Linked DNA regions of Homo sapiens: regions 2, 3 and 4 are each linked to region 1. Evidence: fine-mapped expression QTL. A gene starts in region 1. Each other region holds a variant in brackets. All regions are shown on one strand. Distances are from middle to middle.

Region 1 (8,359 bases):
ACATCTTTATTTCTGCCTTCATTTCATTATGTACCCAGTAGTCATTCAGGAGCAGGTTGTTCAGTTTCCATGTAGTTGAGCGGTTTTGAGTGAGTTTCTTAATCCTGAGTTCTAGTTTGATTGCACTGTGGTCTGAGAGACAGTTTGTTATAATTTCTGTTCTTTTACATTTGCTGAAGAGAGCTTTTTTGTATGCTAGTGAGATGACTAGGGGTTAGGGGTTCAGGATGAGGGCTGGTTGCCAGGAGAACCAACCTTGTGATTAGAGGGTTAGAACTTTCTCTCCCACCCCACCACCACGCCACTTCCCATCCCCCTACCTCTTGGGAGGAAAGAAGGGCTGAAGGTTGAGTTAATTACCAATGACCAATGATTTAATCAGTCAGGCCTGTGTAATGAAGCCTCTAAGAAACCCAAAAGGGGCTGGGTGTGGTGGCTCACGCCTGTAATCCCAGCACTTTGGGAGGCTGAGGTGGGCGGATCATGAGGTCAGGAGATCGAGACCATCTTGGCTAACACACGGTGAAACCCCGTCTCTACTAAAAATACAAAAAAATTAGCCAAGTGTGGTGGTGGGCACCTGTAGTCCCAGCTACTCAGGAGGCTGAGGCAGGAGAATGGTGTAAACCTGGGAGGTGGAGCTTGCAGTGAGCCGAGATCACGCCACTGCACTCCAGCCTGGGTGACACAGCAAGACTCCATCTCAAAAAAAAAAAAAAAAAAAGGGCTGGGTTCAGGGAGCTTCTGGGTAGATGAGCATGAGGAAGTTCTAGGAGGGTAGAACATCTGGTGAGGACATGGAAGCTCTGTACCCCTTCTCCCACACCTCGCCCTATGCATCTCTTTAATCTGGCTGTTCATCTGTATCCTTTGTAATATCCTTTATAATAAATGGGTTGATGTAAGTGTTGCCCTTTGTTCTATGAATAGTTCTAGCAAATTAATTGAACTCAAGGAGAGGGGTTAGAAGTACAGATTACAACCTTGAATCTTATGACACTTGAAGTGGGGGGCAGTCTTGTGGGACTTGTAAATCAAAAATAAAATTCTAAGCCCCCAAACTGACTGAATTGACCCTCCTTTTGACCAAGAGGACCCAAGGAAATCTGAAAAATTAGGCCATGATGGAAAGCCAGTAGGGGCAGCTACAGGGGGTGGCGGGGACAGACATGCCTCATTATACTCTTCCCTTTTGGAGTTCAAGCACAACTGACCAACATTAACATTGAAACAGTGATCTTAAAACTGACAAAACAGACTCTTTGTAGCAATAAGATCCAAATTCTAAAATGACTCTAGTACAGCATCATATAACAGATAGCAGGCCCTGAAGAAAATCAAAGTCTTTTACCCCAAAATATATTTCTTTGACACATTTTGAAATGGCCCTGCAAAGCTGTCTCTTGTGGGGAAAAGCTGCATTCTGTAGGAAAATCTCCTTCCTTTGTTGCGGGACAATCAAAGACTGGAGAGACTGAAAAAGGTTCAGGAGAGTTTATTAAGGTGATCACAGGCTCAGCCAGACATACATCCAGAAAGTCTGAGCCCCAAACTAAAGGCTTTCCTACTTTTAAACATCTTAAGGCAGGAACCATGTGAGGCAGGAAGTAAGTTACGGAAGAGAGAAACAAAGGCAGTTAATCAAGCATTACAACATTTCTTACATCTTGAGAAAAACATGTCTTCCAACCTAAACTTATCGGTCTTGTGACCCTGAAGCCATGCTAGGGAGGTAAGCAGGAACTCACTGAGCCTGTAATAAACTTTGATGAATGTGGAGTTGGGGAATATAGATAAGGTCCACTGACCACAGAGAGAAGACAGGCTGTTAATATTCTCTTTTAACTTAAGTATAACTCAAGTTAAAGTTGCAGCAACTTTAAGAGGATTTAAAAATTTCTGTTACCACTACTATTAGGTTATAGTTGATTTCATTAATTCCTTCTTCATCTTTACTATGTATTTCCAGAGAGTGTGATACCTTTTAACGTCTAATAAGAGACATTCACAAGTGTTCTCTTTGAGGCCTGCTACCTGGAGGCTTCATCTACTTGAAAAGAACCTTGGCTTCCGCAACCCCCCACCCTTTACCTTAACTCAAGCTGATTTCAATTCTTCAGCCAGAGTTTAGCCCTTTCAACCAATTGCCAATCAGGAGATCTTTAAATCCACCTATTACCTGAAAGCCCAGCCTCTTCCTCCTTTGAGATGTCCCAACTTTCCAGGCTGAACCAATGTATACACATTTTTTTTTTTTTGAGACGGAGTCTCACTCTGTCGCCCAGGCTGGAGTGCCCAGGCTGGAGTGCAGTGGCATGATCTCAGCTCACTGCAACCTCCACCTCCCAGGTTTGAGCAATTTTTCTGCCTCAGCCTCCTCAGCATGTATTGATTTATGTCTTTGCCTATAACTTCTTTGTCCCTAAAATGTATCAAATCAAACTGTAACCCAATCACCTTGGGCACATGTTCTCAGGACCTCCTAAAGCTGTGTCATGGGTCATGATCCTTAACCATGGCAAAATAAACCTCTAAATTAATTGAGACCTGTCTCAGATACTTTTTAGTTTACAGATTGAGACCTTAACCTGTAGGATCTGACACTATTTCCAGGTAGACAGTGTTGAACTAAGTAGGACATGACACCCAAGCTGGTGTCCACTGGAGAATTGCTTGGTATAGTGAAAACCCCCCACACGTCTAGTGTCAGAAGTGTTATTGTTAGAGTAGGTAGTCAGGCAGATATGGGCAAGGCAGGAAAGGCAGGAATGTCAGGCGACAATCAGGTGATGGTCAGGCGGTTATTAAACTGTCACTCTAAAATAATTGGTTGCAGTAGGTGCCAGGGAAAGGCAGTCTCCTAAGAGATAGAAAACACCTAAAGCTGGTGATCAGCAGCTTTCCAATAAGATCTCAGGAACTGGGCAAGTGTGCTCAAGCATGCGTACTAAGAGGCAAAATGGCAGATTTTAACTGGTATACAACCTTCCTCTAGGAACACTTGACTGGTAAGGGAAAAACGCCTCAAATGAGAATGTGCACAACTTCAGTAAAGACATTGCACATGTGGCCCCTCCCAAGTGCTGACAGGCCACTGCACGTGCAGACAGCCCATGCCAAGGAAAAAATCAAAGGAGATACAAAACCTCGGAAGCATGCCAATGTATAAAACGCAAAGTCAAAAGTCAAACAGGGCACCTGGATCTCTCAAGTTGCCTGCTTGCCCCTCTTCCTTTGGTTCCTGCTCTAAAACTTTCTAATAAACTCTCACTCCTGCTCAAAAACTTGCCTCAGTCTCTCACTCTGCCTTATGCCTCTTGGATGAATTCTTTCCTTTGAAGAGGCAAGAATCAAGTTATTGTAGATCCGTATGGATTCACCACTGCTAACATTATGCTGAATGGTATGTGAGAGTAGAAAAAAAAACACTGTTTTTTCCCTGTCTCTAATAATGAGCTTAACATCAGAATAGAAATAATAGAAGAAAAAAATCAAAGAACTGGAAGCCAGAATTTACTCAACCTGAACAAAAGAAAGAAACTAGAATGGGAAAAAAAAGAAAAAAAAGAACAGAGCCTCAGGGACCTGTGAAACTATCATAAAAGATCTAACATGGGGGCTAAAAATTTACTCCAAGAAATAATAGCTGAAAAGTTCTCAAATTTGTCAAGAGACATAACTATAGAATTCAGCAATACAGAAAAAGAAATATACAACAGGACCAAGCAAGGTTTATTCCAGGGAGGCAAGGCTGGTTCAATATTAGAAGATCAGTGTAATCTATCTTATTAACAGGCTAAAGAAGAAAAACACCACATGCTTATAGTAACTGATGCAGAAAAAACACTTGCCAAAATTCAACACCTATTCATGATAAAAACACTCAGAAAAAAATAGAAATAGAGGAGAATTTCCTCAACTTGATAAAGGGCATCTACACAAAACCTACTACTAATATTGTACCTAACCATGAAAGACTGAATGTTTTCCCTCTAAGATCAAAAGCAAGGCAAGGATGTCTGCTCTCATCACTCTTATTCAACGTAGAGCTAGACACTCTAGCCTGCGCAATAAGGCAAGAAAAGGAAATAAAACGCATATAGATCTGAAAGAAAGAAGTAAGATCTGTTTACTTATTTACAGGTAATGTGATTACACAGAAAATCCCAAGGAATCAACAACAAAAGACTCCTAGAACTCAAAAGTGACCAACAAATTCCTCTTTAAGTAAAGTTGGGTCTCTCACATGTAATTGAAAGAGTCCTTTATTTATTCACATATCCATCAACTATTTATTGAATGCCTAAAATTTGCCAGTAGCTATTCCAGGCAATAGATACACCATCAAACAAAAAGAGTTCTTACCCTCAAGGGTGATAGTAAGAGATGTAAAAAGTTAAAAAATGGTAAAAGAGAAAAAATGAAGAGTGCTACTTTAGAAAATGAGGTAAGGGAAGAGTTATTTAATAAGACACCTCAGAAAATGAGGAATTTGGCCAGGGGGATATCTGAGGAAAGAGTTCCAGTCAGTGGAAACTGTGAATTCAGAAAGCCTGAGGCTGAAACAGGCAAGTGTGTTTGAGAAAAAGCAAGGAGGCCGGTGGCTGTGCAGAGTGAGGCAGAGGAAGGAGAATGGGCTGTGGATCAGAGGACCCTGTGCCAGATCATACAACTCCTTGCAGTTCATGTAAGGACTCGGATTTTACCTGGAGTGGAAAAAGAAGCACTGAAAGATTTGAGCAGGGGAGTAACCTGATAGCGTTTATGTTTAGTCCTGCCACTTCGACAGATAAACGCACCAATGGGCTTGATGAGATTTAGGCCAACCCATAACCGCCCCTCAACTTCTTTCCTTTCAATTTCAAAACTCCTCTATGGCTTCCTCCATCTGTTCTTCCTTCTGAGAAGTGCTCTCTCTGCCCCTTTACAGAACTAACCACTTCGGCAACTCCTTGGACACTTTCCTTCTTGTTAATAATTTGCTTTCTCCGCCCCTCAAAAGCTTGCTGTTTCTGTAAATCATTACCTGTAAGAGGAACCGCTGGGAGTCCTGTAAACTTTAGCCCAGAGCTTGGCTCCTCCTCCAGAATGTCTCCACCAATCAAGGAAAGTGTTTTGGGCCAGTCTTGCTCCTCCGGATTGTCAGACTGCTCCTCCCTCTTCTTTAGACTGCCACGAGGAAAAAGCAGATGTGAGAACTCAAGGTTCAGGGCTGCTCTTCTAAGAAACAAGTCTGCCATAATCTCCATCTGTGTTGGAATCTGTTAACTAGTGAGTACCTCATCTCCCCTCCTGTGTAAGATTTCCTGAACTGGCACATCTGTTTTTTGAGCAAAGATAACAAACAGATGAACAAAACCAACAATCAAAAATGCTGTCATTAAAGTCTTGGGCAGCCAAAGTTTCTCTCAGAATTTCTCAGTTGTGTGATACTATCTATTAAGTGATGAGGAGTATGCACACACAAAAGGCTATAAATGTAGCAGCTGAGTTTTCATGTTGAGCCTTTTGGTGCTATTTGATTTTTTGAAAAACTATGTACATGTATTAAGTTGATAAATTTTTTTTTTAATTTTAATTGAACCAGATGCGGTGGCTCAAGCCTGTAATCCCACCACTTTAGGAGGCTATGGTGGGCAGATGCAGATCACTTGAGGCCAGGAGTTCGAGACCAGCTTGGCCAACATGGTGAAACCCTATCTCTACTGAAAATAAAAAATTAGCCAGGTGTGGTGGCAGGTGCCTGTAACCCCAGCTACTTGGGAGCCTGAGGCAGTAGAGTCACTTGAACCTGGGAGGTGGAGTTTGCAGTAAGCTGAGATTGCATCACTGCACTCCAGCCTGGGTGACAGAACAAGACTCCATCTCAAAAAAAAGACCAGGTAGTGGCTGAGATTTTCATTGTACTGTCTGCTTAGCTCCCCACCTTGCTCAGTGACAGATGGGAATCCATCTTCTGCATCATCCAGAAAGTATGTAAATTACTTCCAGGAAACTTTGGGAAACACAGATGCAAACCTAAGAGCAGCCAGTTTTCTCCTTTAGGTGGTCAAGGGCAGCTGCAAAAGTTCTGTATAGGAGGGGCTTCAGGCAGGGTCTGGTTGGGTTTGGAGACAACAGCAGTGAATTTACCTTGCGTTGAGGCTGTATATGTTAAACTACTGTTATTACTTGGATACTTAGAGGGAGGGATGTTTAGGGAGCTGTGGGGAGGCTAAAGCCCCCTTGGCTGTAGGGACAAAGAGCTTGCATTTCAGATGAGACCTTAAATACTTTCAGAAGCCTATCTGACCAGGGGTGGTACTGTCTTTCTTAGAAGAGTTTTCCTTACCAATGTTTCTGTGGCTCAGTATAAAAATCTGGAGTCACCCTGGGAAAGTTATCTCAGCAATTTTACCTACAAATAATTTTATAAACCTGGGAAATAGAAGTTGTAAAATGCTAAGATCGATGAAAAGGGAGGAAAAGAACTTTGTTGAGGAGAAGGTAATCTTATGGTTTTGATGAAGAGGATGTCGATATTTGCTTTTTGGTAGAACAGAATGGTTAGGTTCATTTTAAGCTCCAAATGACTGATCAATTTTCTTTTCAACATACGTTTGAAGGATTCTGAATGTGGTGTAGAGTATTGTATGGGAGCTAGGGAACAAATCATACTAAACTCTGATTCTATTCAGAATCAGCAAGCTAAGTATGATATATTTATCTCCAATCATATTAATATTTACATAATTATTTAATGTCTTCCTTAATAGTCTATAAGCTTCATGGGAGCAAGACCAGCCGTGTCTTGTTCACAGCTATATTTTCAGCATTTAGTACAGGTCTGGCATATACCAAGTGTTCAATAAATACACGGGTAATGAATAAATGCGTTGTCCAATTTAAATATGTGTGTCTGTTTGTGTATACTTCCTTGTCTGTAAAATGAAAATACTAATAAATAACTGCAAAATGCTTAACAGTACAACCACTTGCCAGATCTCAGCAAAAATGTTACGTCCCTAGAGAGACCTCCTAAAAGGTCCCTTTTCTCCCATTACTCTCTTTGTTTTCTTGCGTAACATCACATTTATTTATTCCCTTGTTTACTATATGTGTCTTTCTATGAGAGCAAGGAGGACCTTGTCTCTTGCATTCCCTCCTGTATCCTCTATGTCTGAAATAATTCATGGCAAGTGATTAATAATTGTTGAATAAATAAATGAATCATGCCAACCTACCAAGAATGAAGCTCAAGACCTTAAGATATTTGTCCAAATTCCTGCCTTTTATTTAATAGAATCAGAAATTGTTTCTAATACTTCACAACCACTTAAAAATACTATTCATTTTTACATCCAAGTAATGAAAGAATCAGGACGTTCCTTTTGGAAGACATAGTTTCAACATTTTATCTAAATTGCAAAATTATACAAAAACTCAAGTGACCATTGATAGGGGACCGGTTTAAGAAATGACAGTGCAGTTCTTCACTAGAATGTCATACAACTGTTAAAAGAAAAAAATCAGAACAGGGCTGAGTGTGGTGGCTCCCACCTGTAATCCTAGTGCTTTGGGAGGCCGTGTGCGTGTTTGTGTATATTTCCTTGTCTGTAAAATGGAAATAATAATAAATAACTGCAAAGTGCTTAGCACAGGAGGATTGCTTGAGGTCAGGAGTTTGAGACCAGCCTGGGCAACATAGTGAGACCCCCATCTCTAAAAAATTTTTTAAAACACTTAGCTGGGTGTGGTGGCACACACCTGTAATTCCAGGTACTCTGGAGGCTGAGGCAGGAGGATCGCTTCATCCCAGAAGTTCAAGCTGCAGTGAGGGGTGGTCGTGCCACTACACTCCAGTCTGGGTGACAGAGTGAGATCCATCCTGTCTTTAGGCAGGGAAAAAAAGGAAAGAATAAATGAATAAATACTTCATTTAAAAAAATAGAATGAAGATCTCTGCGCACTGGTATGGAAAGCCCTTAAAAGGTACATTGTTAAAAATGTTTTTAGTGGGCAGAATAGTGTGTATTCTGTGCTACCTGTTGTGTAAAATTGGTGGAGAAATAAGAATCTATACTCATAATTTGCTTGAATGCACATAAAGAAACCCTGAAAAGATAAGTAGAAATAATAATAGTGGTTTCCTGGGAGTGAGAGCAAAGTGGGCAGCTTTGAGACTAGAGGTGGGAGGCAGATATTTTTTTTTCCCTCTGTACCTTTTACAGTTTTTTTGAGCCATTTGAAGATATTATGCGAAAAAAAATTAAAAACAGAGAGAGACAAGTAGTGTTGATTACTTAACTTCTTTCAGTTGAAGGAAACCTGATGCTAATTCTGTTAAGAGGAGAGCAGCCAAAAGCATAGGTTGTGACTT
Region 2 (8,359 bases), 88 kb before region 1:
ATGTGCCTCCTTTGTCACTCTCAGGCCTCTGTCAGCAAACATTTAGGATTCCCAGCCTTCACCTCTCAGACCCTGAGAGGTCTGAACAAAAGAGAGTGGAAGGGAAAAGGAGTATGTAGTCACTTCTACTTCCAGTTCCTTTCCCAAGACACACACACACACACACACACACACACACACACACACAAACTTTGCCCACATCTGGGTCCAGCCTCTATGTCGGTGCCCTCTTTCCTACCTTCCTGGGAAGGAGGGTTGTAAGGCCAACCCATGGGAGTGTTTTGCCATCTTGGGGAAGCCTGTGGTCCCACTGGTGAAGAAGATGACCATTGGGTCCAAGGTCTTTGACTTAACACAGGTGTGTTCTGGGGATGCTGATCTGCAAAGGGGTTCAAGACAAAAGGAAAAAAGTCATGATTGCTGTTTCTTCATCTTCTGGGAATGCAAAAGAAACATAAGGCACGGACAGGAAACTGGGAGTTTGCAACACTAGAGGAAAACTGGCTCTCCCGGAGTTAGGCATCACACTGACTTGATGGGTGATTCGGACATGTGGACCAGCATTTTTTTATTTGAAAAATTAGTAAAATACAATGAATCTTAAGTCATTTAATCTTAAGTAATTTAAGTAATGAATCTTAAGTAATTTAATGAATTCATTAAGTAATCTAATGAACATTTGAATAGCACTTGCTATGTTCCAGGCAATGCTCTCAATGAGTTACAAATATGAACCATTCAGTACTCAGAGCAACCCTAGGAGATGAGTACTACTCTAATCATGCCCATTTTGCAGGTAAGGAAACTGAGACTCAGAGAGGTTAGGTAATTTGCTTGGTAATATACAGCTAGCAAATGGCAGAGCCAGGATTCAAACTCAGTCGGCATCCTAGTCTGTGCCCTTAACCAGACTGCTAAGCTTGTTTTTTAAAATTAAACTCTGTGACCTTGGTGATGAGGGGTGGGGAAGAGAAAGAGAGAAAGGGGGAGAGTAAAAAAAATATATTTAGTTGGGCATGCTGGTGGGCGCTTATACTCCCAGCTACTCGGGAGGCTGAGCCAGGAGATTAGTTGTGAACCTGGGAGGCTGAGCTTGCAGTGAGCCGAGATCAAACCACTACACTCCAGCCTGGGTGACAGAGCAAAACTCCATCTCAAAAAAAAAAAAAAAAAAAAAAAATATATATATATATATATATATATAAAAAACATATTTATATATTATATATCATATATTAAATTTATATATAAAATTATATATAAATATATAAAATATATACTTTTATGTCATATATAATATATACTTACATGTCATATATAAATATAATTATAGGATATATAATTTATATATAAGTATATATAATATATATCATATAGTATATATTGTATATAATTTATATATAAGTATATATATACATATACATGTATATGTAAGTATATGTAAGTTATATATAATATTTATGCTTATATATAAATTATGCTTATATATAAATTATGTACAAAATATGTATAATATATAATATATATTATATAATATATAAAAATATAAATATATAATATATGTAATATATAATATATAAATATAAATATATATAATATATAATAAATATAAATATATATAAAACATATTACATATAAATATATAAAAACATTTATATATTATATCTCATATATAAAATTTATATATAAAATTATACATAAATATATAAAATATATACTTATATGTCATATATTATATACACTTACATGTCATATATACATATAATTATATGATATATATACTTATATATAAATTATACTTATATATAAATTTGCATATTATATATATATTATATATAAAATTACTGCGATCAATGTACCTCTGCCCTAGCATGAGCTTGAGATGGCAGATAAGATCTGTGGTTCCCTCAGTCTCTCTTGTTTCTCAGGAGCTTCCCCTGGACTGAGAGGGCCTTGGGCCTACTACAATTGTAAATGCAAGGCTTCTATGGTGTTCAAAGCAACTGCAAATAATCCCAACACGAGAGGAAACACTAGGTCTGCTGGTCTTGCTGTGAAATGGTATCATACTGACTTTGGGAAATTCGAGGGATTTTTCAAGAGTACTCTGTTTTAATTAAATTCTCTGACATTAGACTACAGCATAAGATGTGACTTTGCTGTAATGTTTGCCTTTTGGGGTTGAAATAAAGAGCTTTAAAAACTCAAGTATTACTCCAAGAAAACAAACCCAGCATGGTTTGTGTGTATAATGTGAGACATGACTGAAGGCTTACAGAATCAGAGTTTTGGAGGCAGAAGGGGCCTTTCTTATCTCCAGCCTTCCTTCACTTTGCCCCCAGGTGTCTCTGAAGGCACCCAGTCCCTGGGAGATGGAAAGAGTTTGCTCCCAAAGCTACCTATAAGCCATAGTTGGCAATTCCATTTTTCTTGGGGTCTTAAGTTTTACCTTAAAAATTCATTTTAACCTTTCATTCAACTACTTCATATATTTTTAATAGAAAAATAAGACTTTAGGTTTCCCACCTACAAGGAATATGTAACACAATAACCCCCTGACTTTACAAATCTCCTTTGCACAGTCCCAGGGGTGAGTATATTTTAATGAGAGGAACATGGAAGGTTGACTTGCTGAAAAATGTGAAATTTTACAGATAAAGCAACTGAGATCAAGAGAGGGCAAGGAACTAGGTCAGGGTCACATAGCAAAACAGTGACATAAGTGAGGTTTCTGACAACTGACTTGATGACCTTCCTACCACTGGCTGCTTGTCTCTCACCACTTGGGAGTGAATGGCATTCTTCTACCTGTGGAACAGGAATTAAAAGAAATTAAAGAATGTGTAAGCAAAAACTCAGTTGTATGTAAGAAAACCCAGTTGCCCCAGAGGAAGAGAAAGAGGTGGAGTCCTTTAAAAATTAACTGCCTGTTTCTCTGTCTGTGGCTAGTGAGCCTTATCTCTCCCTTTCCCAGGCATTGTGAAGACCCTGTTTCTCTAGCTGTGCAGCTGCAAGGTCACTAGACAGATAAACCCAAGTTGCAAAACATGTTTTTCCTTGAAAAGTAAGAAATGATGTAATGCATGTCTCAATTGAATAACTGTCTTTGTTTCTCACTTCTGTAATATGCTTCCCCCTGAACAGATCTCTCCCTCCCCCCTCTCCACCCCCAAAATGCTTAAAAGGTAACCTGACTCTTTGTTCTGGGCTCAGTCCTTTGGATATTAATCTGACTGGGTTGGCTGGTGCACCTAAATAATACATATATCCTCCTCAACCCCATCGGTCTCTCTGATTCCTAAATCATCCCCAAACATTTCTGGTGGCCCATATGGGGATTGGAGATAACAGATTTACTGTCTCCTTTGCCCATGGGACTAGGGCCCTGGGGCTGTGGAAGACCTGGCATCCAAGGCATGCCATGGGGGAGTTTCACCCGGATGGAGACTGGCTCTCCCCGCATCCTGCCCAGCAGTGCAACTGAACCTGAGATGGGGCTGCAGGATGACACCAGCACTTCAGGAACCGCGGTAAGGAGAAAGGGCCCAAGGTAGGAAAGCCCATCCCATAGGGATGAAGGTGAGCTTGATCACCTCCCAGGGACCAACCACTCATCCAACCCAGAGTGGCTGGGGGTGGCAGGAGTGGCCCGCCAATTTGGATGAACCTCGTGTCCCCCTAACAAAGTGAAAGTGGTTCACTGGTGGAGAAAATGGGCCGATACAGCGGCAAGTGCAGCAAGGAAGAGTTTGCTGGCAGAATGGTAAGAGTGGCTTGCCACCCCAACTGGGAGTGTGTGGGTGTGTGCGGACCTACCCAGGACACCAGAGAGGTTCGTTTCCTCTGATGAAGAGTCCTGGGGTAGAAGTGGTGTGTGTATGTGTGTGAATGTGGGAATCTAACTAGGCTCACCCGGGACACGAGAGAGGGTTGTTTTGTCCGATGAGGAGTCCTGAGGCAAGGGAGGTGTGTGAAAGTGTGTGAAAGAGACGGTCTCAGGAGAGGCCAATGCGGGGAG[T/C]AATGTGGGGAGGCACAGATCCCTTAGCGCAGGCTGTGTGCTCCCAGGCGAGTGTGGGGGAAATCAGTCCTAGGATGTTGCATATGGCTGATAGGTTGAGCTTCACAGCTGCAGCAGTCTGTGGCAGGGAAAGGCACGTTCCTGGCTAAGCAGCGTCTGAAACTCCTGTAATAGGACCCAGTCTGGTGGACCTTAGAGTGAAAGTGCACCTCAAGGGAGGAAATGGGAGGAAAAGCATGGAAACCAACTCCTTTTGGAGTGCATGATAAAGAATTTTTAAAAAGGATTTAGAGCTGATTATGGGATGAAACTGGATGTTCAAAAGTTAAGGACATACTGTGAATTAGAATAGCCCTCTTTTAGTGATGGATGGCTGACCAATGGCACTATAGGTAAATTGGCTGTGTGTTTTAAGGTAGTGACTAGCCCTGGAAGACAGCCAGGGCATTCAGACCTAGTCTTTATATTGATTCATGGCTAAATGAATGCAGCCCTGCCTAGCAGTTTATTGTAGAACGTTCACAGCTCACACCCAGAGAAACCAGCTGCGCTGGCGGCTACGGAGTTAAAGGTAAAGTCACAGAGGCTTGTAGCACCAAAAGTGAAAAGTGAAAGCCAAAAGTAAAAGTAAAAATCAGCTGCCCTGGCAACTACGGAGACAAAAGAAAAGTCTCAGGAAAGAGAAAACCAGTTTTGCAAGAACCACAGGAGGGAATAGAGACCCCTCCTCCCTACATTCCAATCTACCTCCCTTTACCAAGGCTAACTGCCCCTAAGGAATTAAGTTCAAAGAGATACAGGCTCCCAGTCTCACCTGAGAAGGAGAAATTAGAGCTCCAGGAAGTTAAAGTGAAAGGCTGGAAAAGTCAGGGAGGGTGTCTCAGGTCTGGTCACGCCCAAGTTATGCTTATGCCTCTTAAGAGGACAAGAGGACACCCACTAGGACCCAGATGATGCAGTCCAGCTTCAGCACCTACAAAAGTGCCAAGAAGCCCTTCTGCAAAGGCTAAAGGCTGGTAAAAGAAAAAGGCAACCAATATAAAAAATCTCAGAGGTGCTCCAGGGTGCAGATAAAAGCACCAGCCAGTTTTAAGAAAGACTTTTTGAGGCATTTTGGTTGTACACTCTGTTTAACCCTAAGGCTGCTGAAAATCAGTGCATGGTGGACACAGCATTTGTAAGGCAGGCCCAAGGAGATATCAGGCACAAATTGCAGAAGTTAGAAGCTCCGTAGGTGTGAATGCAACTCAGCTTATTAAAGTGGTTACAAGGTGTACATTAACTGAGTTCAGGAGGCAGAGAAGAAAGCTGATCAGAGGCTTAACAAAGGCTAATTTACTAGCAGCAGCCCTTATGGGAAGAGAAGCTGGCTTTGCAAGGAGGCATGGTCGTGGGCGTGAACACAGTCATGGAAAAGGCTGGTTTGGACAGGAGTTTGAAAGCTGGCCAAGGCTAGAGAGAGATTAATGTGCACGGTGCAAAAGGAAATGACACTAGAAGAATAAATGCCCCAAAAAATAAATAAATAAAATAAGGAGAATGGTCAAGGCCATGGTATAAAAAAAAACCCTCCAGCCAAGGGCTACTGCACCCAGGAGAAACCCAAGACTCCCTGCACCTGCTGTGAAAGGCAGGACATAAAGTGTCAGAAAAAAGCTCAAATCTGCTCTAAAAGTCTCCAGTATTTAAGCCTTTATATAAGCCAAGAGGAAAGATGGCTTAGTAGTAAACAAAAGCAATCTGTTTGTGCACTTCCTACTCCAACCACCTGGTGTCAAATAAGAGAGTTCCTAAGGGCAGCAAGGTTCTGCTGCATTTAGATCCCAAATTTCTAGCTTATGGCTAAGCCACAAAGAGAAGGAAAGAAAGAGCCCCTCCTCTAGGAGGCTAACCAGGAGAAGACTTTTAAAGAAATTAAAAAAAAAAAAAAAGCCTTGACTCAGGCCCCAGCTTTAGGACTGCCAGATCTAACTAACTAAGCTTATCTTCTTGTATGCCCATAAGTGAAAGGGAGGCCATGAAGGTTCTAACTCAAGCCATAAGGTCATGGCATCACCCAGTGACATACTTATCCAGGCAATTAGATTCTGTGGCACTTCACTGGCCTCCTTGTTTTAAAGCAATAGCTGCCACTGCCCTACTGGCTCAATAAGCTAACAAACTAACTTTAGAGACTGTGAATACCCTAAACCCGGCTACCTTGCTCCTCATCAAGTCAGTACCAGGAGACCCCCTTCATTGCTGTGTAAATGTGATAGATGAAGTGTTCTCAAGCCAGAGAGATTTGACAGATAGGCCCCTTGGGGAGCCAGACATAGAATATTTTACTGATGGAAGCAGTTTCATACGAAAGGGAATCTGCTGAGCTGGGTATGCAGTGGTGACTTTGGACTCAGTAGTAGAGGTGCAGTCTTTGCCTACAGAAACTTCTGCTTAGAAAGCAGAGCTAATAGCTCTGACAAGAGCTCTCTGGCTAGCAAAAGACCAAAAGACAAATATTTACACAGATTCCAAATATGCTTCTGACACTTTCCATGTTCATGAGGCTATTTACAAAGAAAAAAAAGGCTTTTAACTGCTGAAAGTAAAGAAATAAAGTACAAGGAAGAAATTCTACAGCTCTTAAATGCTGTATAGGCCTTAAAAGATGTGGCAGAGATGCACTGCAAGGGGCACCATAAAGGAAGAATACTAAAGGCTAAAATAAATAAATAAATAAATAAATAAATAAATGAGACAAAGAGGCAAAGCAGGACAACCCCACCTTCTAAAGAAGAAGCCTTAGCTATGCCTCTCCTCCCAGAGATTCCCCTTCTGTAGATCCCAAGCTACACTCCAAATGAAAGGGCTTGTTTTGCCCAGAAAAATATCAACTACATTGAAGAAGGATAGTAAAAATTTTCCAGTGGGAGGCTAGCCATCCCTGAAACGGTGGCCCCCAGATTTGTAAAACAGTTCCACCAAGGAACTGACCTGAAAAAAAAACACACAAAAAAACAGCACTAAAGACATTATTAAGGCATCATTTCTATGTGCCATGGCTCACTGCTATTACTCAAGCCATTTGTAAATGAACAATATTTAACTTGTGTTCAGAACAATCCATGACAAGGGCTTACTCCACCCCCAGGAGTTCAGGAAACAGAAGCCATGCCATGTGAAAAACTGCTTATGAACTTCACCGAATTACCCTGTGATGGGGGCTATCAGTACATGTTGGTGTTCACCTTTTCAGGATAAGTCAAGGCCTTCCTCACCGGGACAGAGAAGGAACTAGAGGTGACCAAAGTGTTGTTAAAAGACATTATTCCCAGATTTGGACTGCCTCTAACTCTAAGATCTCACAATGGACCAACATTTGTGGCTGAAATAGTTCAGGACTTAACTTGACTATTAAAAATAAAATGGAAATAACATATAGCCTACAGACTGCAGAGCTCAGGTAAAGCGAAGAGCATGAACCAGACACTAAAACAACTGCTGAAGAAATTGTGTCAAGAAACTCATCAAAGGTAGGATCAGGTCTTGCCCATGGTCCTCCTCCAAGTCAGGTGCACCTCCACCAAGCAAACTGGGTATTCCCCCTCTGAGATTTTGTTCAGCCGGCCACCCCCCATCATCTGTAGACTAGAAGAAGTAACTTTAAGAAGGCAAATGCAGACTTTAAGTATGGCCATGCAAAAATGCATGGCTAGGTATAGAAAAATGCCTATAAGTCTAACAGACCCAGTACACCCTTTCAAACCTAAGGATTTTCTTTAAGTTAAAAAATGGAATCCAACCACTCTAGGACCCATACAGGATAGGCCTCATATTGTAATCATGTCTACTTCTACTGCTGTTAAAGTTGCAGGTGTCACACCTTGGATTCACCATAGCTGGCTGAAACTAGCAGCAGCAGTGACTCCCGACTATGACCAGTGGATTAACCAACAAGACCCTGATTGCCCCACCCGAATAGACCTACGGCGAATCCCAACCACCAGTAAGAAGGACAACTGCCCTGCTCTGACCACACTGGAGGCTGGTCAGTCTACACATGGCTGAAGCTTGAAGATCTTGCAAGCTCTGCTCTAGTCACATCCTGGAAGCTGACTAGTCTACACACAGCCGAAGCTAAGAGGACCATCTCTAGATAAGTAAATGTAGATAAAATTTATAAGCCTAGTTATAATTGTTCTGTTGTTACATTATTACTGCAAATGCTGCAAATGTCCATGCCCAGAGGAAGGTTTGCCATTCCTATGTGTAGTGTAAGCATGTTTCTATTACATACACTAATGTTGTTACCATTTCTGCCTATACTAGAAGGGGAGAAATCTCTAGAAGGATGCCCACACT
Region 3 (8,359 bases), 34 kb after region 1:
AATAAGATTGAATTATGAGTTGCAGCTCTGATCCTAACAGACAAACAAAATAAGGCTGAAAATACGTACTAGAAAGAATTTGAATTCCTTCCGTGGTGGACTAGGGCAAAGATGGTGTGAATGCCAGTAACCCAGGCTCACGTCAGGATGGGGTGACAGAAGTCAGCTGGATGGGATCAAATTGTTACCCAGAAGGTCTGGAAACCAACGAGGTCCCTGGTGTAGTGAAGGAGAATGGGCTGGCATCAGATGTCAGAAGTGGGAACCAGAGGCTGGAACTGAGGTAACCATAAGCAGTCTTGGTAGGTAAATAAGTAGAGATTTCAGGAAATAAACTCTGAATAACACAGGTGTCCTGAAAGCCCATTCCTATTGGGGCTGACCACACAGTATTTTGGCTTAAAAGTACCATGCCAGGCAGCCTCCTGCGTTTTGCCTGTGTGTCTACAACATGCCCCTAGGGTTTCTCTAGCTGAGTTACAAGTTCTCACAAGTATTTCTTCAAGCCATATCCCTTCTAACACTGAATCCAAGTTTTGAAGATGACACTGATGTCAATACAAATCCAGAACTTTCTGTACCATGTATTCAAGCTCCTTATCTCAAATCCTAGGTATAGGGCTTCAAGCACAGGGCACAGGGCAGAGTTAGAAGGTATCCAATCTCAGGGGATGAAATAGGTCCTGAAGTTTAAGGCAGGCCAGGCACAGTGGCTCACACCTGTAATCCTAGCACTTTGGGAGGCTGAGGTGGGTGGATCACCTGAGGTCAGGAGTTTGAGACAAGCCTGGTCAACATGGTGAAACCCTGTCTCCACTAAAAATACAAAAATTAGCCAGGCATGGTGGCACACGCCTGTAATCCCTGCTACTTGGGAATCTGAGGCAGAAGAATCACTTGGACCCGGGACGGGGAGGTTACAGTGAGCCAAGATCGTGCCACTGTGCTCCAGCCTGGCTAACAGAACAAGACTCCGCCTCAAAAAAATAAAAATAAAAATAAAAAAGTTTAAGGTAAAAATAGGAGATGTGCATGTTACAGTGGAGGGTGGATCTCCCCCCAGGACTGATTCCCCTAACTGATCTTTGATGCCAGAAGATACCCTGTTAAGTCCTCCTGGATGGCCCAAAGTTGTTCCAGATATAGCCCAGTGGCTGGGAATTGGTAGTTTGTCAAGTTGCTAGGATGACAATCGCTATTTACTGTGAAAGGGTATATTCCAGGCAGCTGAGGGCAGGGAAAACAGTCAGTGATTATTGGCTTGTCTCTTTGCTCTGAACATCATCGGCAAGGTTTCACGAGTCTTAGCTCTTCCTGTACTTCTCCCCTACCATTAGTCATCATCAGTTTTACCCACCTAGACAGGTGCTTACTAGGGACAGGATGGTAGCTGAGCCTTTCGGAACAGGGTTAGCTTGGCAGCCACCTGATATCCTAGCGTACAATATAGGAAAGGTCTATAAGTGGGTTGTGGTCCCCTCACAGCTCCGGGGGCTTGGCATAGGGCTTGGATTAGTCAGAGTGAGGGGGAAAGTGTGGCCAGTTTTCCAACAGTGGTAGGCTGCAGCATTTCCTAGTAGAAGATGTGAGTGGGTATCTCAAACGAGGTATCCATGAACAAAACGGCCATGTGCTCCATGCCTCCCTTTCTGCTGCCAGGCCTATTCTACCTGGGTTAGGTCCTTCTCTAGGCTGGGTCCTGCCAGGCAGGGTAATTGGGTAGCAAGTTCCAGAATTGATTAAAAAGAATATTTGGATTTGAAATACCATTTTAACATTGGAATGTGAAAGACTTGTGGAATATGTGTCTAGATCACTAGGTTCTTAAATTTTTGGGATCACATATCTCTTTGAGAATGTGAAGAAAACCATAGGCCACTGTTAAGACTTATGCAGTGATGGAAATGTTCTATATTTGCACCATCCAATGCGATAGCCATGCATGGCTATCAATCACTTGAAATGTGGCTAGTGTGACTGAGAGTATTTAATCTTATTTAATTTTAATTGATTTAAATTGAAATAGACACACGTGGCTAGCAGCTATCATATTGAATGGCACAGCCATAGACTTTTCTCAGAAAAATACAAGATTTTGCATAGAATTTCATAGAGATTTGAAGCCCACTTATGGATTCTGGGTTAAAAAATAAGACCCAAACTTCTTGTAATTCTAAGACTACAACTAAGAGCTAATGTTTTTGATGACTTACTATGTGCCAGGCATTATACATCTATGCTAATTCATTTAATCATCATAATCTCTTTTACAGAGAAGGAAACTGAGGCACAAAGAGATTACCTAACTTGTCCAACATTACACAACAAACTGTGACTTGAACCCAGCTGTTCTGACTTCAGAGTTCATACTCTTACCCATGTTAGGTTGTTCCTTGTTAATTTAACATTTTCTGCAGTAGTTTAAAAAGATAAAAGAGACTATCCAAGTTGTAGAAATCGTCAATATGTGAACCAGTATTGCAGTTTTTAAAATAATTTACCTTTGAATGACTCACTTACAACAAGCATAATTTTTTAATTTGTAAAAATGTTAATGCAGCAGAGCTAGCATAACTACAAATGCATTTTATAAAATGTCAAAAAGTGAATGGAACAAAATTATATCCATAGACACACACACACACAAGGGTTCACAACTGCCGCATGGCACATGTAAATTAAAAATGTTCAAGTGTTGTTGTTGTTTTTTTTCTTAGAGACAAAGTCTCACTATGTTGCCCAGTCTGCTCTCGAACTCCTGGGCTCAAGCAATCCTCCCACCTCGGCCTCCCAAATGTTGGCAGTACAGGCGTGACCCACTGTGCCTGGCCACAAGGGTTTTGGGTAAAGACAAAAATGGGTAATTGTTCATACAATGTAAAACTGCCCACTGGTGAACAGTTTTCAATATGTGAAAAAATTATAACTTCAAGTCTTTGTTTCTCACCAAATGGCTGTCCTGGTAATTTGTTGTTTCAAATAATTCCTTTTCAATGAAATCTTTACTCCCAGATCAAAGTGGATAGGAAATGTTGCCAGCTTATCTTTAAGCTGGACAAACGAATCCTTGAATTTAATAAGATTTCAGGCACCTAAGTGCAGGATACTTAATCATAAAAAAGCTTCAGGGGACTCTCCTGGAACTGTGCCTACAGGGAAGCATCATTCCATAGCCAGCTCCGGGCTGGTAATCTGGCGTTGGAGGTACATACTAGTTGATGCACCTAGACTCATGCCTCTAGGGAAGGCAGTAAATGGCAGTCCTGGTAGTGCCCTAGGAGAGAAAATGACAGGACTCCAAATTTACTTTTAAAGGGGGCTATGAGGGATGGCCTATCTTTCTGTCTTCTCCATTACAGGTCCAAAAACTAGGCAGAGTTTTCAAAAACATTTCTAGGAAGGATAAAATTTGGAGAAGAGGATTTGTAAGCATAAAGTAATAACATCTTTCTTGGCTTCTGCCAGTTAAAGGCCACCATGATTTCCACTCTTGTTCCTCAGGGCCATGGAAATGGATCAGAGCAACAAAAAAATAGCTGCTGGAATCTTCACAGCCTTGTATAAAGACTGCATGTTCTCTGTGAACTGTTCCCTTCAACAAAGACATGGCAAACTCAGCGTGACTACTGTTT[A/G]TAAGTAATCCCCCATGCTGAGGGCTAGGCTGGATGAGGCTGGGTTGTTACAGGGGTCCCAGAAGCTCTCCTGTATTAGGTACAGACCAGGAAGTGGCTGGCTTAAGAGCACAGAGCTGGGATCAAACTTTATTAAAACACACTGGCCCACCCCACCAGGCATGTAGATTCTCAGAGCAAGCAAACAAGACATACTAAAACATACAAATGCATAACTCATTTTCCTGGTGTTTCAAATATTTATTTTAGGTAGTAAAGGCTTTTGTCGTTCTAAATCCTGATTACAAGTCACATGATCAAGAACAACTAATAAAGGAGATTCAGGAGCATGTTAAAAAAACTACAGCACCTTACAAATATCCCAGAAAGGTAGGCATCCTAATTATAACGAATATTTGCTCAGTGTTGTGGACAATTTCAAGTGTTTATTTTTACATTTTAATGAATATTTTCTTCACACATGCTGCACCACATGTCCCAAACTGAACTGATGACATATGGGTAAGAATCAGAATCTTTGAGATTAAAATGAAACCCTGAACCTATTTTGTTTGGTCCTTTGGCTTACTGGACTCACAGTAAATACTTAATATCAAGACAACTTTCCTAACAATACCCTTTTCCCTATTTTGGCTGTTACCCAAAACCCATTCCAAAGACTATTCTAATTCTTCCACCTAGAATTCATAATCAAACTGCTATATAATTGGCTTTATGTAAAGATAAAAATTTCCAGGCTAATTTTCTTCCCCTTGATGCCAACAGGTAGAATTTATTCAAGAGCTGCCAAAGACTATCAGTGGGAAGACAAAAAGAAATGAACTGAGGAAGAAAGAATGGAAGACAATTTAAAGTTGTTTCATTAATTACCATATCTATAAAACAAACATAGTATCTGTCAATCTCTAGAAACCACAAGATGATGGAGAGGTCATAAAAACTGTGGTAGTATGCTTAGAAACTGTTGATTTAAAATATCTTGTGGTTATGATATCAGAGGCTAAATTTTGAAATAAAATATTTGGCAAATTCCTCCACATTAGTGTCAATGTTCCTATCATTTCTTAATATAAAAATAATACCATCAATTGCTGATTAATTTTTAAATGTATAGTATAGAAGCAGTTTCTGAACCAGATCTCTGCTACATAGGTTTTCAAACTTTAGTTGACTAATTCTTCTGATATGTTGATATACAAATCAGAACCAATGTTCAAGCCTGAAATAAAACTAAAGAACTTATAAAAGTTTTTAGAAAAATATAAAATATCAGTTAGAAGATTATGATAATCTCAAAGTACAAGAATCTACCTGAAAATAGACTAGGGATTTTTATTAGTCACATTTTTTGCAAATAATTTAAAAATAGTTTAGACTTGTTTCAAGGTCTAACTATAAAAGAAGGATCATATACTATTGTTGCTTATTATATGTAATCTAATAAATACTGTTTACAAAAGATTACACTTGTGGTTCCTGAAGAAAGTATGGTAAATGCAGTAAACATTAATATATAAAATAAAAATAAAATAGTGTAAGATGTTATCAGAATACTCATGTTTGGAAATTCAAGGAACAATTAGGATTCATACATGAAAGGTTATCAATTCCTCATTGAAGGCCTGAGTCTCAAAGAATTTTTGGTGGAAATACTTAAATTTCTGTCACAAATATGGCTTGTTTCTGGAGAACTAAAAGTGAGTCCCCCTGTGGAATGAGATGGAACCATGCTGTTGGCTCTTTCCTTTTGAAGTGTTTGTTCCCATTTGAAATAACCACAACATTTTCTGTTTTCTTGGTATTTCCCGATAGGGCAACAATAGAAGACTTTTCCATGGTTCGGTCCATTATTAGAAACAACAAGTCTCTTAGATCTCCGACCACACTTGCATAATGGAGGTGTCATTTTCCCACTCTTCCATGGCTCTTGTAGGTTAACTGTAGAAGTTAATATAGATGGGAGACGCCTCCAGGAAGAACTTCTTACTGGGGAGCAATCAGATGATGTAGGCTTTTCTTCATGAATAGTGAAGGGTTGTTTTTTTGCTGGTGGGAAAGCTTGGGGACTGCATGGATTCCTTTTGGTACCACCTGAAAGAAGAGGATGTTTCCCCAAAACTAAAGGATGAGACATATTGGCATTAACTCTGTTGAAGGTACTTGATTTGTGTTCAGGTAACTTAAAGGCAGAAATATCTGAACCTGGATCTTTGGCTTCTTTTACATTATAAATAGTAGTGTGAGGACTCTTGTACACAATAGACTTAGAAGTCTCAGATTTTTGAGGAGTTTCCTCTATGTCTCCAAAGTTTTCATGACTTGACATTTCCAATTCTTTCAAAACCATTAATCTTTCTCCAGAATTAAATGAAATCTCTAAGTCTGAGTCACTAATGGGAACTGTACAGTCTACGTTTTCCTCAGGCTGAGATGCTGGCAGTAAAACCACATCCTCCCAATCAGCCAACACAGGTAAACAGTCCAGAGTAGAGCTCATTTCCAAATCAGAAACATGATGAACAGTTGGAACGGTGGTAGAAACAAGTACCAATTCTGAACCAACTGTTGAAGCCTTAGATTTGGTATTAAATGCAAGATGTTCATTTTTTCCTTGCTTTTGCATATAGATAGGTGAATTCAAGGTAGGAGACTGCAACTGCCCCACAGAAGTAGAGGACTTAGTATTAAAAAGAGGTAAGGAACTTTTGACATTGTGAAGACTTGCTTTTATATTGTTTTTTACTTGTAATTGATCCTGTTGTGCCTTTATAGGAGAATTTGCACAAATTGACTTCATTTGAACTTTTTCATGAGGATTTATTATATTTTTAGGCTCCTTATTATATATGCTGGGACCCTGGATGCTAATGTTACAGGCAGACATTTCTTCAACTTGAATTGTATTCAAATTTCTGGCCAGAATGCTGAAATTCTTCTTAGTGGGAACCTATGATTCCACAGACAAATGCAACAGCTTTAGAAACTGTGCATTCGTTAATTTCTTCAGTATACAGTTTTATGACAAAAAAGAGAAATGTCATTGATTTATAAATGACTGCACACATTAAATCTACGTTTCAAAGAACGTATGACTGTTTATGAAGTTTGAGATGACAGAATAAAAAGGCAAGACACTACTAACCTTGTTCAACGACCTTGTAATTTTCATTACACAACCATCTCTGATCATTTTCCAAGCAAGAAGGGCAGTATTCCGAGAATCGTCCAACCCTGAGGATACAGATATCAAACACTGAATTTAGTGGTACTAGTACTATTTCCTTAGTACTAAAGAAATAACTTAAAAAGAAAAACACCACTTGTGTAGAAATTGGAACACAGTTTTAGTTTTATGACCATCTACTAATTTTAATCATGATAAACTGGTCTTGGAAGTGGAAGGCTATGGCAGCATTACCAGTGAAAGACAAGCTCGTCCACATTTATAGAGGAGGATATGAAAATGTATTAGACAGTTCCCCAAAATGTGGCCAGCGTTCTGCAGGAACCAGGATTTGTGAATAATCTAATAGTCTTGTTCAGTTTTTTCACTAGTCCATTCTATTATTTGAGCACTTGTTTAATCTCCATTTGATTTGGCTCATTCTTTTCATTCTTCTTAGCAACTAGAAAGCCACTAGATGGCAGTGTATCTTACAATAGTTTATGAAAGTGGTAATTTGAAAGTCTTAGAAACAATGTGAATTGTTTAGATTAGGAGTTTTTTTTTTTTAGGCTGAAGATATCCCTTACTAATGACATTACCAAAAAATGAAATTCATATGAAGTATTTTTTAAAAGTCAAATGGCTTACATAATTTTTAATGTATACTAACCAGAATGTTCTCGTCCTGAGAATTCTATTCCTACTTCCTGCAAGGCACCACTTAGTCCTTTTGGTTTTCTCCTATAGAAAAGCTAACCAATAAAAAAAGATATATTTAAAAGAAGATTACTATTTTAAAGACTATGTATTAAACACTTTTCATAATTTTTAGTTCTATTAGATTTAGAATGTGCTTATTTTTTGTGTGTTGTTTTTAAATACTTTAAGAAATGCATTTATGTGACCAGTACAAAAGAAAGTATCTTCTTTGCAGAAACCCATGCCCATGTGTAGGATAAAAGTTAATCATTTTTCCATAGAAAAAAGTAAACATGCCCCCATTTTTTACCATTACCTTGTAAGTTGCTCTGAGATCAATCCAAGAATTTAAAAACACAGGTTTTAACAGCTGCTTTCTTTTACACTCATACTCCAGGCAAACCCCCAAGTCCCAGTCTGCATTAGGTACATTAAAATAGAACAAAGTCAATGATGCCAGCATTTTTTACTTATGCTGCCACCATTTACAAATAGAATGCTAGAAGATCATATAAAATAGAACAGTATGATTTCATTGCTCTGCTAATATCTAAAAATTATTCACTTTATATAACTTACTATTAACAAGTTAGGTTGATGACTAAATTTCAAAATGATTTCTTAAACACCCAGTAAAACCTTATTTCAGAAAGAAGAGTAACATGTTAAATTACAAGGACTATATTTTCTATATTCTAGGAAAATATTAATGTTATTGAGAAACCAAACATTTTATAGTAACTGGAAACCAAATATGACTATCAATGCTATCTTATCAATGACACAGTATTGCTATTAATGACTATTAACAGCAATGCTCTAACACAGTCATACAAAAAACCTACTTTAAATGGCTCATTTT
Region 4 (8,000 bases), 190 kb after region 1:
TTCTTAATTAACTTGCTTTTGTTGTACTCTATAGACTCGCCCCGAATTCTTTCTTGTGCAAGATCCAAGAACCATCCCTTTGGGTCTGGATCTGGACCCCCTTCCGATAATAAAACTATGTACCCTTGAACTTGTCATCTGAAACCCCAGTTTCCTTATCTGTAAATAGAAAAACAAGTGTAGTTATGAAGTATAAACCAAAAGTAAAATCTTAAGACCCTCCAACCATCTGAATGGACTTCCTCCTTGTCCGGGGCACTCTAAAATTTAACCTGAAAGCCTGGTTCAGGCCATGACGGGAAGTGGGGGTCAGACATGCCTCATTATGCCCCTCCAGCATTACCATCAACACAGACCTTAAGTCTGATAAGAAACATTTACAATCTATTCTCTCTGAAGCCTGCTGCCTGGAGGTTTCATCTGCATGATAAAACTTGGGTCTGCACAACCTCTTATCATAACCCAGGCATTCCTTTCTATTGATAACTCTTTCAACCAATTGCCAATCAGAAAACGTTTAAATCTACCTATAACCTGCTGGCCTCCACTTCGAGTTTTCCCGTCTTTCTGGACTGAACCAATGGATATCCTAAATGTATTTGACTGATGCCTCGCGTCTCCCTAAAATGTATAAAATCAAGCCCTGACCACCTGGGGCACATGCTCTCAGGATCTCCTGAGGGCTGTGTCACGGGCCATGGTCACTCATATTTGGCTCAGTATAAATCTCTTCAAATATTTTACAGGGTAAGAAAGAGACTCTTTTCATCCACAGAAGGAATCAGGCCTTGGCATGTGACAGGTTGTGGTGTAATATACATATATATCTACTGGTTTTCATCCATGGTTCCTGGCTTCTAACTCCCCTAGCCCTTGTTACAGTCACCTGTTATAATGTTGGGTGTGTTAGGCCTTAGGGGCAGGCCGCAGGAAACAGAATCTCTCTGACCTTCTCTTTCCCTCCTTTTACCTGCCCCCAAGCAAGACTCAAATCTTCCCCTGCCTTTCTGATTGTGAGTCCTTTTTTTTTTTTTTTTTTTTTTTTTGAGACAGGGTCACTCTGTGGCCCAGGCTGGAGTGCAGTGGTGGGACCTTGGTTCACTGCAACCTATGCCTCCTGGGCTCAAGCGATCTTCCCACCTCCGCCTCCTGAGTAGTTGGGACTACAAGTGCATGCCATCACACCCGGCTAATTTTTGTATTTTTAGTAGAGACAGAATTTCACCACATTGGCCAGGCTGGTCTCAAACTCCTGACCCCAAGCCATCCACCAGCCTCAGCCTCCCAAAGTGCTGGGATTACAGGCATGAGCCACTGCACCTGACCTGATTGTGAGTCTTAAGACTCCACCTAGAGAGAGAGGGTGCTGCCCTATACTCTGGGGAATGTCATACAGCTTTCATAAAAACCCAAGAAGACTGGGTGCGGGGAGCTTCTGGATAGCTGACCACGTGGAGGTTCCTGGAGGGTATTTCACCCAGGGAGGGCATGGAAGTTCTCACTCCTTCCGCCATACTTCACCCTATGCATCTCTTCATCTATATCTTTTGTAATATTCCTTTAATAAACCAATAAACCTAAGTATTTCTCTGAGTTCTGTGAGCTGCTCCAGCAAATTAATTGAATTAATTTCAATTAAAGGGGGAGTGGTGAGAACCCCAACGTGAAGCTGGTTGGTCAGTTCTTGAGGCTGGGACTTGTGACTGGTGTCTGGGTTGGGGGAAAGAATTGGGGACTGAGCCCTCAACCCGTGGGATCTGACACTATCACCAGGTAGATGGTATTGGAATTGAATTAGAGGACACCCAGTTGGTGTCCACTGCTTAATGTGTGGGGAAGGGGTAACCTCCACACATTTGGTCACAGAAGTCTTCTTCTGTATTGATGGTGGTGGTGGTTGTGGTGAGACAGTAGTAGAAAAATACAATTTCAGAGTTTTTCTGTTCCACAGGTCATCAATAAAAGTAAGTGGTTTTTTTTGTTTGTTTGTTTGTTTTTTTGAGACAGTTTCACTGTCACTCAGGCTGGAGTGCAGTGGCATGGTCTCAGCTCACCACAACCTCCACCTCCCAGTTCAAGCAATTCCCCTGCCTCAGCCTCCCAAGTAGTTGGGATTACAGGCAGGCGCCACCACACCTGGTTAATTTTTATATTTTTAGAAGAGATGGGGTTTCACCATGTTGGTCAGGCTGGTCTCAAACTCCTGAGCTTAAGTGATCCACCCGCCTCAGCCTCCCAAAGTGCTGAGATTACAGGCGTGAGCCACAGCATCCAACCTGTAAGCTCTTTTCTATCCCTCAGATTGTTTTCATCTTCCTTTTGTCATTCCCTGCCCAGTTTTTCTGTTCCTCCCTTTTTGCCACCTTCTGAATCTTCGTCTTCAAGTAGCAATTTCCATCTTGCTCACTTCCAAGGCTCCATCTTAATCATCGTTCTCTCTCCTTCCTCCACCCAGATGGATCCTATATTTTGAAACACCTTGTCTACCAAATACCGACCCCCTCCTTAAACAGTAGCCATGTCTCTCTTGCAGGCTTTTGGGAATATTGGGAATAGCTTATGGATTCAATTCAGGAAGCCCAAGGTCACCCCTGGGATCCCTGGCTACACTGCAGCCCTGTAGCCATATAGAGATGACGGAGCCCTGTGGGGGAAAGAGGTAGGCCTCCCTGCCCACCCCTTACCTGGTAGGAGCCATGAGGAGGGATGTAGTAAGTGTCTCCAGGAGCGAGGGAGTAATAGTCCTCCTCAATTTCCTTACAGTAGAACATGGACAGAAGTGACAGCAGGAGACGCCGGTCTTTGTCATCAGTCACTCTGCCTCCGTAATTACATTCCCCTGGGGACAACCAACAGAAGGAGAGGTTGAGCCCAGGGAAGGTCATCACGAGCTTGGTGGTTGATGTAAAACACGGCATTCTTCCGGCCAAAGATCTCTGCTGGGACATAGTGATAGGGACAGCAAGCAGGAAAATTCCGGGCAGAAGATGGCGGGTCCCCTGCAAGGGCCCCACCCTCAAGCTGAAAAGCCTGAAACCATGGCCCAAAGTGAGAACTTACATCCCTGTTTTCCCACTTGAATGTTGCCTTTTCCAAAACCACCCATGACCTGCCCCACCCCCACAACCCATGCCCATCAAAACCCCAGGCTCAGCCAGCAGAGAGAGAGAAGCAGCTGGACATCAGAGAGAAGAGGCTTGACTTCAGGGGAACAGCCTTTTCAGCTCCCTTTCCCGCTGAGAGCCACTTTCTTCGGCAATAAAATCCCCCACATTTACCATCTTCCATTCGTTTGTGCGACCCCATTCCTCCTGGACACTGGACAAGAGCTTGGGTGCCATGAGTGCAAGTGCCAAAGTCTGTCACGCTGACCCACCACTGGGCGGTTAATACTTGAGCTGTCTGGACCGCAGAGCTACAAGAGTACTGTAAACCTTCCTCTGGGTGACAGAGGGAGACTGTCTCAAAAAAAAAAAAAAAAAAAAAGACCTGCACTCCAGCCTGGGCAACAAGAGCGAAACTTCGTCTCAAAAAATAAATAAATAAATAAATATAAATAAAAACAGAAACAAAAAAAAAGACATTTAAAGAGCGAGGGAGAGACCACATTCATATAACTTTTATTATAGCATATTGTAATTGTTCTATTTTATTACTGTTGTTGTTAATCTCTCGCTGTGCCTAATTTATAAATTAAACTTTATCATAGGTATGTATGTATAGGATAAAAAATAGTATATATGGGGTTCGGTAAAATCCGCAGTTTCAGGCATCCACTGGGGGTCTTGGAACATATCCCTGGTGGATAAAGAGGGACTAGTGTATATGTTGAGATGGTGGCAGTAACAGTGGTTGGAGCCTTTGCTAACTGTGCCCCTGATAGAGAATTACAACGAGCAAAGACTCTTGCTAATTCATGCTGGAAATGTAGAGTGGGCAAGAAATGGATCTATGATGTCTTTTATACCCTTGAGGTTTGAGGATTGTTTGTTATCTCAGCCTAACTAGCCTATCCTGACTGGAACAGTTGGAAGGTAACTACTCTCAAGCTGGCTGGTTTATGACCGGCAGGCAGTTGGTTTATGGCTTGCAGGCAGTTCTCTAAGCAGACCATATCCCAGGGCAATCATGCACTCATGCTATGGTCTGAAGAGGAACCCTAGGATGTGCTTCTGCATGACCTGGAACTGTGGGAATATGGTTCACTTCTATTTATTATTATTACTAGTTTTAGAGACGGGATCTTGCTGTTTTGCCCAGGCTGGTCTTGAATCCCTGGGTCCAAGTAATCCTTCGGCATCAGCCTCCTGAGTAGCTGGGACTATGGGTGCAAGCCACTGTGTCCAGCTCCAGGCGCACTTCTTTGGAGATGTTCTTTCACCAAACTGAGACCCACTGTATGCGTACTGTGTGTGTCATTTGGGGCTTTGTTTTAGGGAACACTCTACTGAGTTAAGGTCAATGTGACCTTCTGGCACTGAACTTAATCACTGTAAAGAACAGTCTTTCAACCTTGGCACTCTTAACATGTTGGACTGGATAGTTCTGTGTTGTGGGGACCACCTTGTACATCGTAGACTGTTCAGTAGCATCCCTAGCCTCCACTACTATAACTGCCAGTAGCACGCACTATGACATCCAAAACCATCTCCAGACATTGCCAAATAGCCACTGGGGGCTGAAATCACCCACAGTTAGAACCACTCCTTTAAGCCTCTGTCTTCCCAGCTGTAAAATGGGGTTATTAACATGGAGCTCATAAAATTAGCATGAAGACTCAATGCATTAATCACAGGTATACAGTGTCTGCCACGTGCCTGGGGAAGGGATTCTAACAAACTCCTTAACATATGGAGCTGAA[G/A]AGGAAATTGGGTGTGATCTTGATGCCCCGGTGTTTTAATTAAGCTGCATTTTGACCTTCAGCCATGATATTCCATTCATTTAGCACATGTCTATTCTTATTCCTGTCTCTGGGACTATACGGCACGTTCCTTGAAGTTAGTGGTCACGTTTTTTTGGTTGTATGTGTGTATGTTTTTTAAGAGATGGGGTCTTGCTCTGTCACCCAGGCTGGAGTGCAGTGGTGTGATCATAGCTCACTACAGCCTTGACATCCTGTGCTCATGCGATCCTCCTGCCTCAGCCTCCTGATTACCTGGGGCTACAGGTGCACAACACCATATCCAGCTCATTTTTATTTTATTTCTTTGTAGAGATGTGGCCCAGACTGGTCTCAGACTCCTGGGCTCAAGCAATCTTCCCACCTTGGCCTCCAAAAGTGCTGGGATTACAGACATGACCCACCGCACAGAGCCTATGATCAAGTTTTACACATTTACATTCTTCCATATTATGTACTTGTACATATCGTGGACTAATAAAAGGTTGCTGATTGATTGCTTTAATACAAAACAGCTAGTGCCATTTCTACCTCAGGATCACTTTGCTGGGAATGTTCTCCTTCCTCTATGCCCCACCCAGTCCATTCTTTTCCACTCATAAAACTCCTACTCACCCCCAAAACCCATCTCTTATGCCTTTAAGAAGTTTGCCACGATCATCTCCTCCTCCTACCCCAAGATTTAATCATTATGCTGCCCTTCTACTTATAAATGTTTCTCTTGTTGAACTTATTACTATGTTACCTTTTTTTTTTTTTCTTCTGAGACAGGATCTCGCTCTGTCACCCAGGCTGGAGTGGGGTGGCACGATCAGAGCTCACCGCACCTCCACATCCGGGGCTCAAGCAATCCTCCCACCTTAGTCCCCTGAGTAGCTAGGACTACAGGCATGTGTCACCACGCCTGGCTAATTTTTGTATTTTTTGTAGAGATGGGATTTTGCCCCAGCCGGTCTTAAACTTCTGGCCTCAAGTGATCCATCGCCTCGGTCTCCCAAAGTGCTGGGATTACAGGCATGATCCACTGCGCCTGGCCCGTATTTTTTTTTTTTTTTTTTTTTTTTGAGATAGAGTCTCTGTCACCCAGGCTAGAATGCAGTGGCGCAATTTCAGTTCACTGCAACCTCTGCCTCCCCACTTCATGCAATTCTCCTGTCTCAGCCTCCCAAGGAGTAGCTGGGACTACAGGCACTGGCCACCATGCCCGGCTAATTTTTTATATTTTTAGTAGAGACAGGTTTTCACCGTGTTACCCAGGATGGTCTCGATCTCCTGACCTCGTGATCCGCCTGCCTCAGCCTCCCAAAGTGCTGGGCTTACAGGCGTGAGCCACCACGCCTGGCCAATTTTTTAATTTTTAGTAGAGATGGGGTTTCAATATGTTGGTCGGGCTGGTCTCAAACTCTTGACCTCAGGTGATCCACCTGCCGTGGCCTTCCAAAGTGCTGAGATTACAGGCATGAGCCACTGTGCCCCGCTGGCCTGTATCATTTTTTAAAATATTTTTCTTCTTTTGGAGACTGTGAGTCACTCAAGGGTAAAGATTCTATCTTAATTTTTTTTGTTTGTTTGTTTCCTTACAATATCTAGCATGATGACCAGCATTAGTAAGAGCTCGATGTTTATGGTGAGGGAGGGAGGGAGTACATAAGTGAATGGAAATGGGAGGAGAACAGCAGGAGGGTGGAACATGATACTGGAGGTTTACAGTGGAAAAACTCCTCCCGTAAATACCTGTCAGGTAGGTCAGAGCATCAAAGGGCACCTCCTTGTAGTCATTGAGAAACATCTGGATCTGCCACATACTAATCCTCAGGTCAGATTCGTTGAATTCATAGGGAATATTCCACCCTGCGTGTGGGAGAGCAGAGAGAGGCTTCAGTGCTGAGAGCTCTTAATTTCCACTCAAAGACCAAGCCGAGGGAGTTAAGCATCATTATGGATCAAAAGCCTCTTTCAGGCTCATGAATATCAAGCACCGAGGCCAACTATTAGCCTGGACGTTTACCACCAACATGGGAGCCATTCTGCCTGAGAAAACATCCATTCTAAAATCAATTTCCTTATATACCTCCCCATTTGTTAAGGAAGATGTTAATGTCCTGGGATTTGTGGAATGAGAATTATTCAGCCTGGCAGGAATATGGCGGTAATGCACGGAGCTCCAAAAATAACACCGCGGCATGGCTAGACAGCAGGAGCTACGACTGGGCAACAGAGCCACGTTGGTTCTGAGAATTCCCCTCCTCGAGCTCACGGGAAAAACTGAATGGCCAGCCTTAAAGAAATGACCACTCGTATTTCCAAGGGTGTAATGATAAATGCCCATTGGGGGCTGAACAAGTGACATACATGTGTAAACCAGGCATGGTGCAGGATACAAGAAAGAGTATGGGGAAACCTGTGCTCAATAGGGAAGTTTTTTGTTTGTTTTGCTTTTGTTTGTTTTGTTTTTTTGTTTGTTGTTTTTTTTTTTTGGAGACAGAGTCTCGCTCTGTCCCACAAGCTGGAATGCAGTGTCGTGATCTCGGCTGACTGCAACCTCCACCTCCTGGGTTCAAGAGATTCTCCTGTCTCAGCCTCCTGAGTGGCTGGGATTACAGGCACGTGCCACCACGCCCAGCTAGTTTACGTAGTTTTAGTAGAGACGGGGATTCGCCATGTTGGCCAGGCTGGTCTTGAACTCCTGATCGCAAGTGATCCGCCTGCCTCGGCCTCCCAAAGTGCTGGGATTACAGGTGTGAACCATCGCGCCCAGGTTCAATAGAGAAGTTTAATTTCCTCCCAAACACTCGCTTTCAAATTATAACAAAATAATAAAATTCGTGTGCCAGCAAACGAAGCATGACTGGCAGTTAGTTGCAAGCCAAACATTTGCATGGCTTTTTTTTTTTGAGAGACTGGATCTCGTTCTTTTGCCCAGTCTAGAGTGGTATGATCTCCCTTCACTGCAGCCTCGAACTCCCAGGCTCAAGTGATCCTCCCACCTCAGCCTCCCAAGTAGCTGGGACTACAGGCTTGTGCTACTATGTCAGGCTATTTTATTTATTTTAATTTTTTTTTTGAGACAATGTCTTACTTTGTCATCCAGTTTGGAGTG

Evidence for each region. PIP is the estimated chance that this variant, and not a neighbour inherited with it, causes the effect.
Region 2: its variant is fine-mapped to the expression of ACSM3 in whole blood (TOPMed, PIP above 0.99).
Region 3: its variant is fine-mapped to the expression of ACSM3 in whole blood (INTERVAL, PIP above 0.99). The same link has a PIP of 0.9 or more in nasal epithelium.
Region 4: its variant is fine-mapped to the expression of ACSM3 in T cells (TOPMed, PIP 0.93).

The regions. Positions count from the first base shown.
Region 1 is chr16:20,758,855-20,767,213 of GRCh38, forward strand. ACSM3 (acyl-CoA synthetase medium chain family member 3) reads left to right here and starts at 5,160. Exons shown (of 14, transcript NM_005622.4): 1 at 5,160-5,271. RefSeq lists an enhancer at 5,297-5,426.
Region 2 is chr16:20,671,293-20,679,651 of GRCh38, forward strand. ACSM1 (acyl-CoA synthetase medium chain family member 1) reads right to left here. Exons shown (of 14, transcript NM_001318890.3): 5 at 239-379. It also overlaps a transcript of ACSM3 not described here. Among named protein-coding and RNA genes, the nearest start is that of ACSM1, 22 kb to the right of the region's middle. The variant T/C (reference allele first, on the strand shown) is at 4,019.
Region 3 is chr16:20,792,489-20,800,847 of GRCh38, forward strand. It overlaps ACSM3 (acyl-CoA synthetase medium chain family member 3), which reads left to right. Exons shown (of 14, transcript NM_005622.4): 13 at 3,882-4,001; 14 at 4,398-5,093. The coding sequence ends at 4,484. ERI2 (ERI1 exoribonuclease family member 2) reads right to left here. Exons shown (of 9, transcript NM_001142725.2): 6 at 7,814-7,914; 7 at 7,469-7,550; 8 at 6,775-6,863; 9 at 3,852-6,579. The coding sequence ends at 5,236. Among named protein-coding and RNA genes, the nearest start is that of ERI2, 9.8 kb to the right of the region's middle. The variant A/G (reference allele first, on the strand shown) is at 3,633.
Region 4 is chr16:20,945,799-20,953,798 of GRCh38, forward strand. It overlaps DNAH3 (dynein axonemal heavy chain 3), which reads right to left. Exons shown (of 62, transcript NM_001347886.2): 56 at 6,635-6,751; 57 at 2,685-2,839. Among named protein-coding and RNA genes, the nearest start is that of LYRM1, 49 kb to the left of the region's middle. The variant G/A (reference allele first, on the strand shown) is at 4,862.